2 separate regions of the Homo sapiens genome follow, and region 2 is linked to region 1. Evidence: fine-mapped QTL for protein levels in blood plasma. A gene starts in region 1. The other region holds a variant in brackets. All regions are shown on one strand. Distances are from middle to middle. Region 1 holds the start of PON1 (paraoxonase 1). Region 2 overlaps PON1 (paraoxonase 1).

Region 1 (4,402 bases):
GCAGAAACACAACGTTTGCAAAGAGAAGGTACTCTGCAGATGTCCACTGAAGTGTTTTGTGGAGATACTAGGCAAGTACATCAGACTGAGAAGATGGTGTTGGTTGCATTCATAGGGGAGACTGGAGGGTTGGAGGATTATTTGTCCTTATCTCAGACTTTCAATGAAGTATGATTATAATACATATTCAAGTATCACTCTATATTTTTGAGATCACATATGACAGCTATAAAAGCTAACGTTTACAGGACATCTGCTATATGCCTGATTTTTATATATATATATATACTTAGTTTTATTTATATGTTTTATATAAATATAAATATATGTATGTGTGTGTGTGTGTGTGTGTATATATATATATATATGCTGTAATATGTATTATTATCCCCTAATTTTCGGGTGGAGAAACTGGCTGGAACTTTTCTGGAATAAAGTGGTAAAATAACTTGAAAGTTGCAGAAATGATATCTAACCCAGGTCATCAGGAATCCACAACTACTCTCTTCCCACAACTGTGTGTTGCCTACAGTAAGCATGGAATGGCAGAAATGCATCGAGAGGCCCAACGTTAGCTTTGTGGTTTCCTTCTGAGAAGGGAAACTCAGTGGACTCACGTATTGCAATTAGCAATGTAGGGACAAGGAAGTTGCCATACAGATGCTGCAACATTCCATAGCCCAAGTTGGGGTAGGGGAGGGGAGCTGTTTCTACCATCATCCAAGGCATTCCCTGGACTTGTGCGGCACATACAGCCGACTACAAAGGTGGGAGACTCGTGGGTGGGAGACTCGTGGTCTAGGGGAACTCTCTCAGTTCTTTTCTCTGTACTGCTCCCACCTGGGAAACTCAGAAATCTCTTGAGGCATCCCTTGTGTGCTTCCTTAAGTTCCCTCCAGCCCAGGCATATATAGCTTCCTGTGAGCCGCACACACATACACTCCAAGTCTGAAGAAAAAAGGATGCATCTATCCTGGGGATTTGGCTTGCTCCTGATGCAGGCCTCATGATATCATCTCTTGCCTTCTCTCCCTGGGGCAGATTCATGATCTCTAATCCCCCAGGGAGTTTGTTCCATGACGCTGGTTCTGATTCAATAGTGTGGGGTAGGGCTTGAGATTCTGCCTGTACAGGGAGCCCCTAGGTGATGCTCAGGCATCTGGTCCCCAGACCCAGTTGAGTAGCTAGGTTTTAGGGGTTTCCAACAGTGGGTAAAATTTCCCTTCCTTCCTCTGTCTGGGTCACTCCAGGAGGCTCAGCAACCCATCCTTTATCTATATATTTTTATCTATACCTATAATCTCCTTTGGCAGCCACCAGCACTGTGATTAATAAAAACTCACAAACTGTAATTTTTACATGATTTAAAAGCCAAGAATACCAACTGCTTCTTACTTTTTTTCTGCACTCTGTAACTTAAAAAAATTAGAAAAACATCCACAATAAATAGTAAAAACCCATTCTGAATGTAAGCTTCTAATTAGTCCATAAGCTCATATAATTTTTTTATATTTAATTTTTATTAGGTTTTACTTTAAAGTAAATAAGGCATTGTTGACTAAGCCTTAGAGACTAGGATGATCTGTAGACTTTGAACTCCTGTTAAAAGTTATGAAACTTTTGATACATTCTTAAAATATCCCCACCCCCCTTGTATAGCACTTAACCCTTTATTAAATACTTTAAAGGGAAGCAGGGAACTAACATTTATTGAATAGCTACTCTGTCGCAGGCAGTGTGTATTACTATTTCCAGTTTACTGAAGCAGCTAAGGTTAGAGATGTAAAGTGATTTGCCCAAATCGCATACTCATGGGGCAGAGCTAAACCCCAGGACATCAGATGCTGGCTCCAGGGTTCCCTCTTCCCCGCCTGCCCCCACTGAAGCGAACCATCACAGCACACGTTAGCTCCACCTGCTCGGGTCCACACGCAGTTTTGCTGTGGCCCTCAGTAGCCTCAATTTGAGAATCTTCAAGCCTGGAAGGTTTGCCATGGCCAGGCAGTCAAGGCGCAGAAGCGACAGGGGCTCCTTTCTCTAATACACAAAATATCAGGAGAACCCCCAGCCAGGTTAGTTTGTTTCTTTCCAGGTTGAGAAGTGAATCTGTAGCCAGGGCACACAAATCTTCATGAAAAATTAATTCGTGTATGCTGACAACCTGGGCACTCACACCCCTGGCAATTGCCTCCTTATCCCATGTCTCAGGCCATGAGCAAGAGTTTGTTTTCAAGTGACACATGACGGCTGGACAAACATTTATGAAACCCCCGCAGAGTGTGCATCTAGCACCTGCTTGTAAATGTTCTGTTAACAGCCTGGACCCAACTTTCTGGGGGCTCGTGGAGCTGGCAGGGAGTGAGGAGGACGAAGGCTGCAGCCCTCACCACAACCCAACTTACTGGTAAGAAGACTGGTGGTTCCTGAAGAGTGCCAGTCCCATCCCCAAGAGGGTGAGCGCAATCAGCTTCGCCATGGTCGGGGATAGACAAAGGGATCGATGGGCGCAGACACCGACGGGCTAGGAGGCTCTGCCTGCCTGCAGCCGCAGCCCTGCTGGGGCAGCGCCGATTGGCCCGCCCCGCCCCTCCCCGCCGGGTCGGCAGCTAGCTGGGCCGACCAGGTGCACAGAAGGCGTGGCTTGCGGTCAGCCCCCACCGCAGGAGCTCAGCACTTTCAGCCAAAAGTCCCATTTTGCTCCTTCCAACTGTAAAGAGAGAAGACAGAGAATAGGTGCCTAGTCCAGTCGGGGAGGGGAAATCAAACAAGCTGAAGTAAATTGCCATGGGAAAGGACAGTCAAGCTTTGGTGAGCACTCACTTTGTGCCATCCCGGTCCTTGCGTCTCAGAGAGATTCAGTAGCTTGATCATGGTGACAGCCAAAAAGGTGCGGAAGGGAGGGCTGTAGTAGGAACCCCTAAGATCTAACTGTTCTCACCAGGCTACTACTCTGTGTCACCTTCCAACATCTGGATTTCAAGCATTTTTCTCTCAACACCACTCTGACTTTAGAGTTCACTCAAGTACATCCCCCACACAGCTCATTCATTTCCTCATGCAGCTGGCATTTATTGAGTACCTACTATGTGCCAGGCGCTGTTCTAGATGCTACAGAACAGGACAAAACGTCTTCCTCAAGCTTACGTTCATTCCAATGGGGGGAGTCAATTGAGAAATCAGCAAAACATGTCACTGTGGCATATATAATGCTCTAGGTGATGCATGTGTGTGTTATGGATATGCACATATGTTATGGAGAAAACACATAAAGCAAGAAAGGGGATAAGGAATACCCTCTGCTGAAGAATAGCAGTCAGAGAAGTTCTCACTGATAATGGGGCATTTGAGTAAAGACCCAAAGGAGGTGCCTCTGTACAACCATGTCTCTCTTCTCTGCTGTCTGCTGTTACTGTGAATGATTTGCTCCATGTCTCTTTCCTTCTCAAGGCTTTTGGTCCCAGTTATACCTTCTCTCTTCTGCAATATCTGTCCTTTCATCTCTTGTGGAATATTGCCAGCCAATACCAACATGCTTTACTTATCACCTTTAGCTTTCTGGGGGGAAGCTTCTTTGGCCTCACATTGTAACTACTGCCCTCTCTCTCTGCTCCTTCTGAACACTTGCTCTTAAGCCTTGAGCTACTATGTAAAAAACCTGACCACTCCACTGGAGCATTCACATGAAAGGCCATGAACATATGGAGAGGGAAAGTGGTCAGCTGAAGCCAACCTCTTAACCATCGGCACCAAGGAAGCAGAAATGAATGAAGTGGGCTATTAGACAAGCCCAGCCACCACAGCCTGGCCACCAACTGAATACCACTGGCTAAGCCACCCTGGTTAACACCAGGTGGAGCAGAAGAATCTACCTAAGAAGTAGAACCAATGAATCCAAAAGAGAAGAGTATTCGAAAAGAGGGGGAATGATGATCTGTGTCCAATGTGGCTATGAGTTGAGTATGCTTATGGCAGAGAAGTAACTACTGAATTAGATAACATGGATACAATAGGTGGTTTAATAAGAACAAATTCTACACGAGTCAAAAGAACACAAACCATATTAGAATGGGTTAAGGTGAGAATGGAAGATTGGAGATATTTCACAAGGTTAGCTGCTAAACCAAACAATCATTTTCTTATGCTCATAAACAGTGCATAAGGAATTTGGGCAGGGCCCAGCAGGCTACCTGGTTGACATGCCCACTGGGGTGTTTAACAGTCTTTTCAAAATGTGTCCAAAGGAAAACTCTTAATCCCCCCTGCCCAAACTCACACTTCAATAAATGGCATCACTACCATCCAGTTGCTCAAGTCCAAAATCTACATATCTTCTTTCATCCATCTCTTTTCCTCACACCCTCTTGCACCAAACAGATCAGTCAGTCCTATAGGCTCTATTTTG
Region 2 (4,402 bases), 16 kb before region 1:
TACAGTGTTAATACGTCTTACCTTCAATGGAGTTAAAGTCCAATTAGCATGCTTTTCATACACATGAATCTTATGAGCCAGCAACTCAGCTATATAGACATACCTTCAAAGAAGAAAGAGCTACATCAAAGTACTAGAAGTAACACAACTTGAGAGATTAAGATGAAGTTGTAATACCTATTCATAGGGAAGAACTTTGCTTAAGGAATGGAAAATGGAACCCACCTCAAACACACCAAATTCTGAAAGAACTCAGTGAGTTTACAGTGACAGAGGGGTTTAATCTCTGAAAAGTTGTTTCTGAAGGAGGGGACATAGTTGTCCTTATCAGTATGGGAGGAACTTAGCCCTAACACTAACTTTTAGTATCTGGGAGTAAAATGCATTACAGCGTTTCTCTTTTGGTTTGACAATTTAGTGTCAAGGCCCAGGTTCTGCATTTCAGGGGCTAGTGAGTTCTCTCTCGGGAAAGTTGCAGGAAAGCCCTTGGACAACAGCCCCTTGTTTTAATCCAGAGAAAATATGAGAGAAGAAAAGCTGCTTGGCTTGGATCAAGAGAAGTCTTCCTCCTCTTCTGCCCTGAGTGTGGTCCTGACCCTGTGGCTTTAGTCATACCCCACAAAGATCTGGGGTTAGTCTAAGCACTGTGCATCCCCCCAACAAAAAAAAGAAATTACTGCTCAATTATCTTCTATTTTTTGAAAACTGGTCTATGATATGAATAATTAAAAGCTGTCCCTGTCCCTGTTGCTCTCACTTGCTTGCTTGCTTGCTTTTTCTTTTCTTTCTTTCTTTCTTTTTTTTTTTTTTAAAAAAAAACAGAGTCTTGCTCTGTCACCCACGCTGGAGTGCAGTGGTGCAATCTCAGCTCACTGCAACCTCCACCTCCCAGGTTCAAGCAATTCTCCTGCCTGGCCTCCCTGGTAGCTGGGATTACAGGAGTGCGCCACCACGCCTGGCTAATTTTTGTATTTTTAGTAGAGATGGGGTTTCGCCATGATGGCCAGGCTGGTCTATGACCTCAGGTGATCCACCCACCTTGGCCTCCCGAAGTGCTAGGATTACAGGCATGAACCACCACACCTGGCCCCTGTTGCTTTCTCTAAGCATATGTTACGGACTCTAAAATCCTTGATGATGACACAAGATGAGAAAGGGCATATATGTGGATGGATATAGATATTTCATGTATATACCAATGCTACCCAAAATGCAGTCTCCAGACCAATGTTGGTTTGCAAATTGTTTGTTATAGCTCACCATGAGATAACATTATAAATCAAATACATCACTAAGCACACTGCTTAGTTAAACTGACTTGTTTTTCACAGTAATACTTTCTTGATGAAGGAAGTATTGCCTTGATTTACATTTTGGTACAAATTCCTCATCTTGTCATAAACCTGCACTACTGACGTATCTATACCTGCATACTATTCAACTCATTATACACTCACATCTTTACTCAAAACAAAGCTATTCAGACATATCAAATCTTCATCACAGTTCCCCCTCTTAAAATGTACTTTCTTTCCAAAAAGGAAATAAAACCAGTATGCCTTCACAATGAAATTTTTGATTTGATAAATTTCACCCCCTGAAAAATTAAGACATTTTACATTTTTCCTAATTTTATCTCACTAGGGTAACATGTTAAAATGTATCATATTACTTAAAAAAAGAATATATTCCAAGATATCTCCTGAGAATCTGAGTAAATCCACTACATTTCAGAGAGTTCACATACTTGCCATCGGGTGAAATGTTGATTCCATTAGCAAAATCAAATCCTTCTGCCACCACTCGAACTTCACTTGGACTATAGTAGACAACATACGACCAC[G/A]CTAAACCCAAATACATCTCCCAGGATTGTAAGTAGGGGTCAAGAAAATAGTGATCATTTGTGCCATAAAAGTGCTCAGGTCCCACAGCAACAATATCATTCAAACTGCAATTAAAACATACACACATAATATATAAGGTGAAGGTATTGAACATTACAGGATTATTAACTGGCATTCCTCACTGTCTATTCCTAAAATCAAGATGTGGGATGGAGCCTTCGTGCTAGCTATAATGGAACACAATTAATATGAAATTAGTCCTGCCGATACAATCCTTAGACAATCATTGGTCTAAGAAATCTGAGGAGGTGATTATAGCACTGTAACATAAAAATCCTATTATATGTATCTTAAAATAGTGTTACGTCGTGTGTGTGTGTGTGTGTGTGTGTGTGTGTGTGTGTATCTGTGTGTGTCTGTGTGTAAATACACTAAATTCAGTAGAAATTAAATTAAGCCAGAAATCATTGTCAGGGCAAAAATGTGCTCACATATCTGGGCTCACATAGAACTAACTCCCATAAGAAATTGAAAAAATGCTGAACCAGCAGCCTGGATACTTGCATTTTAGTTTAAGCTCTGCTACTATTAGCTGTGTGATCTAAGAAAAATCAATCTTTTCACATGTCAGGACCTCAGTTTTCTTATCTGTGAAAGCAGGATGATAGACTGGTTGATCTTCCAGCCTTAAGATTTCGTGATTCTAAACTGAATGAAATGTCCATGAACAAGAATGCTCAGAAATAGAATGCTATGGCTTTTTTTTTTTCCTTTCTGATTAGGATTCTCTGTTACTGAAAATGTAAGATATATGAGTCTATTTTTCTGCTTTAATGGATACAATAGGGAACACATAAGTGAGTCATTCTTTGCTGATTGAGGTGATGGAAGTTCCCCAGGGCATGATCTGGGAGAAAATTATCTCTGCTCTATTGCAGAGGCGTCATGGCCAGCGCATCAGCTCTGACGCAGCTCTGAGCTCTCAGGCAAGTTAGACAGGCATGCAGAGCCTCAGTTTTCTCATCTGTAAAGAGAGGTTAAATGATATTCTCAAAATCATACAGCTCATTAGTAGAAAACTAAGGGTCAGGATCTTAATTTGTGGAGTTGCAGTGGGAATTACAATGAGACAATGCCTGTTGTGTGCTTTGCAGGGAGCATGACATTCAATAAACCCTCAATCAATGCTAGCCACTATTACAACATGAAAAAAAAAAAAAGGTCTCGGAATTTAGGATTAGTCTGGATGGGCTCCAGACATAAATCTACAATCTGATTTTACTCTCTCTTTTTTAAAAGTAAATTTCTTAAATTAGTATGCTGGACTATCATTTGTCTGTTTTTCACAGAAAGGGGCAGAGTGGAATGGTTTAGAGCAATAGCTTTTTATTGCTGAAAATTTACTACCCCCAGGTGTAGTAAAATAAGTAAATAAATAACAAATTTTTAAAGGGTAATAGAGTAATAGCTTTGAAATCTGATGGACTTCATTTGCATCCTGACACTGCTTGCTATCCTTATAATGTGGGGCCACAGCATTGTCACTAAATTTTGAGCCACTATTCTGAACCTCTGTTTTCTCTGTATACCTTGAAAGGCTAGAGTAAGAATACAATGAAATAATGAATGCAAAGGCCTTCACACCATGCCTGGCATACAGTAAATGACCAATAATAACAGTTGTGATATATGAATAATAACAAGTTTAAATTATAATAGATTTAGTTATTGGAATATTAATGTTATAAAAAACCATAAAATACAAAGAAGAAAATACACACAGCTAATCCTTGGATTGAGAGAGCAGAACTCTAGTTAATTACGGCACCGTGGTTATTTTCAGTCTCCAATGCTGCCTAAGACCAATATTTTTGCAACTGGCTCAAGAAAAAAATACTCCAATCCGGTAACGTAGACCAATCTGAGATTTCCAAGATTAAATGTTAAAACACATAATTTTTTTCACTATTTTGTAGAGGTTTAAAGCACCAGCTCTGAACTCATGTTACCAGGATTAGAATCACAGCTGCACCATTTACTGATGATGTCATCTGGGGAAACTTAACAATTAGTCCAGGCCTCAACTTTTTAAAAATCCAAAATGGATATAATAATAACACCTAATTCAGAAGGTATTTGTAAAACATCAATAAAATAATCTGTTTGAATTAGTTAGTGTAGCACCTGACTTACAGAGAAAGCTCATTTATTAGTGTTATCATTTGCCCAGCTTCTCCATTCTACATACTGTTCTCTACTTTAAATCTTGGTGTTCCTCACATTCTCCACTCAGTGACCTTATTCTCTCTCCAAAATATATTTGTTAAATAAATGCACGAATAAACTCTTCCACCAAAAGCTGTTCTCTGAACTTTTATTCATCTTGATGGGGCAGAAGATGACCTGAGCTGGGGTTCCTACTTGGCCACTAGTGAGTTGATTGGCCTTCATCCAGTAACTCAATTTCTCTCCAATCTCATTTTCCTCATCCTCAAACCACCAGATAAGAAAGAAGAGGAAGGGGTCCTGGTAACACAGAGTGCACACTACATACCAGG

Evidence for each region. PIP is the posterior inclusion probability: the model's chance that the variant is causal. The UK Biobank Pharma Proteomics Project read protein levels with antibody pairs (Olink). The fine-mapping took linkage between variants from a reference panel, not from the people measured, so its PIPs are less certain.
Region 2: its variant is fine-mapped to the plasma level of the PON1 protein (UK Biobank, PIP above 0.99). The variant lies in the coding sequence of PON1. If it changes the protein, the assay may bind it differently, which can mimic a change of level.

The regions. Positions count from the first base shown.
Region 1 is chr7:95,322,000-95,326,401 of GRCh38, forward strand. It overlaps PON1 (paraoxonase 1), which reads right to left and starts at 2,533. Exons shown (of 9, transcript NM_000446.7): 1 at 2,403-2,533. The coding sequence starts at 2,476. RefSeq lists a silencer at 2,477-2,656.
Region 2 is chr7:95,306,264-95,310,665 of GRCh38, forward strand. It overlaps PON1 (paraoxonase 1), which reads right to left. Exons shown (of 9, transcript NM_000446.7): 6 at 1,748-1,948; 7 at 22-103. Among named protein-coding and RNA genes, the nearest start is that of PON1, 16 kb to the right of the region's middle. The variant G/A (reference allele first, on the strand shown) is at 1,844.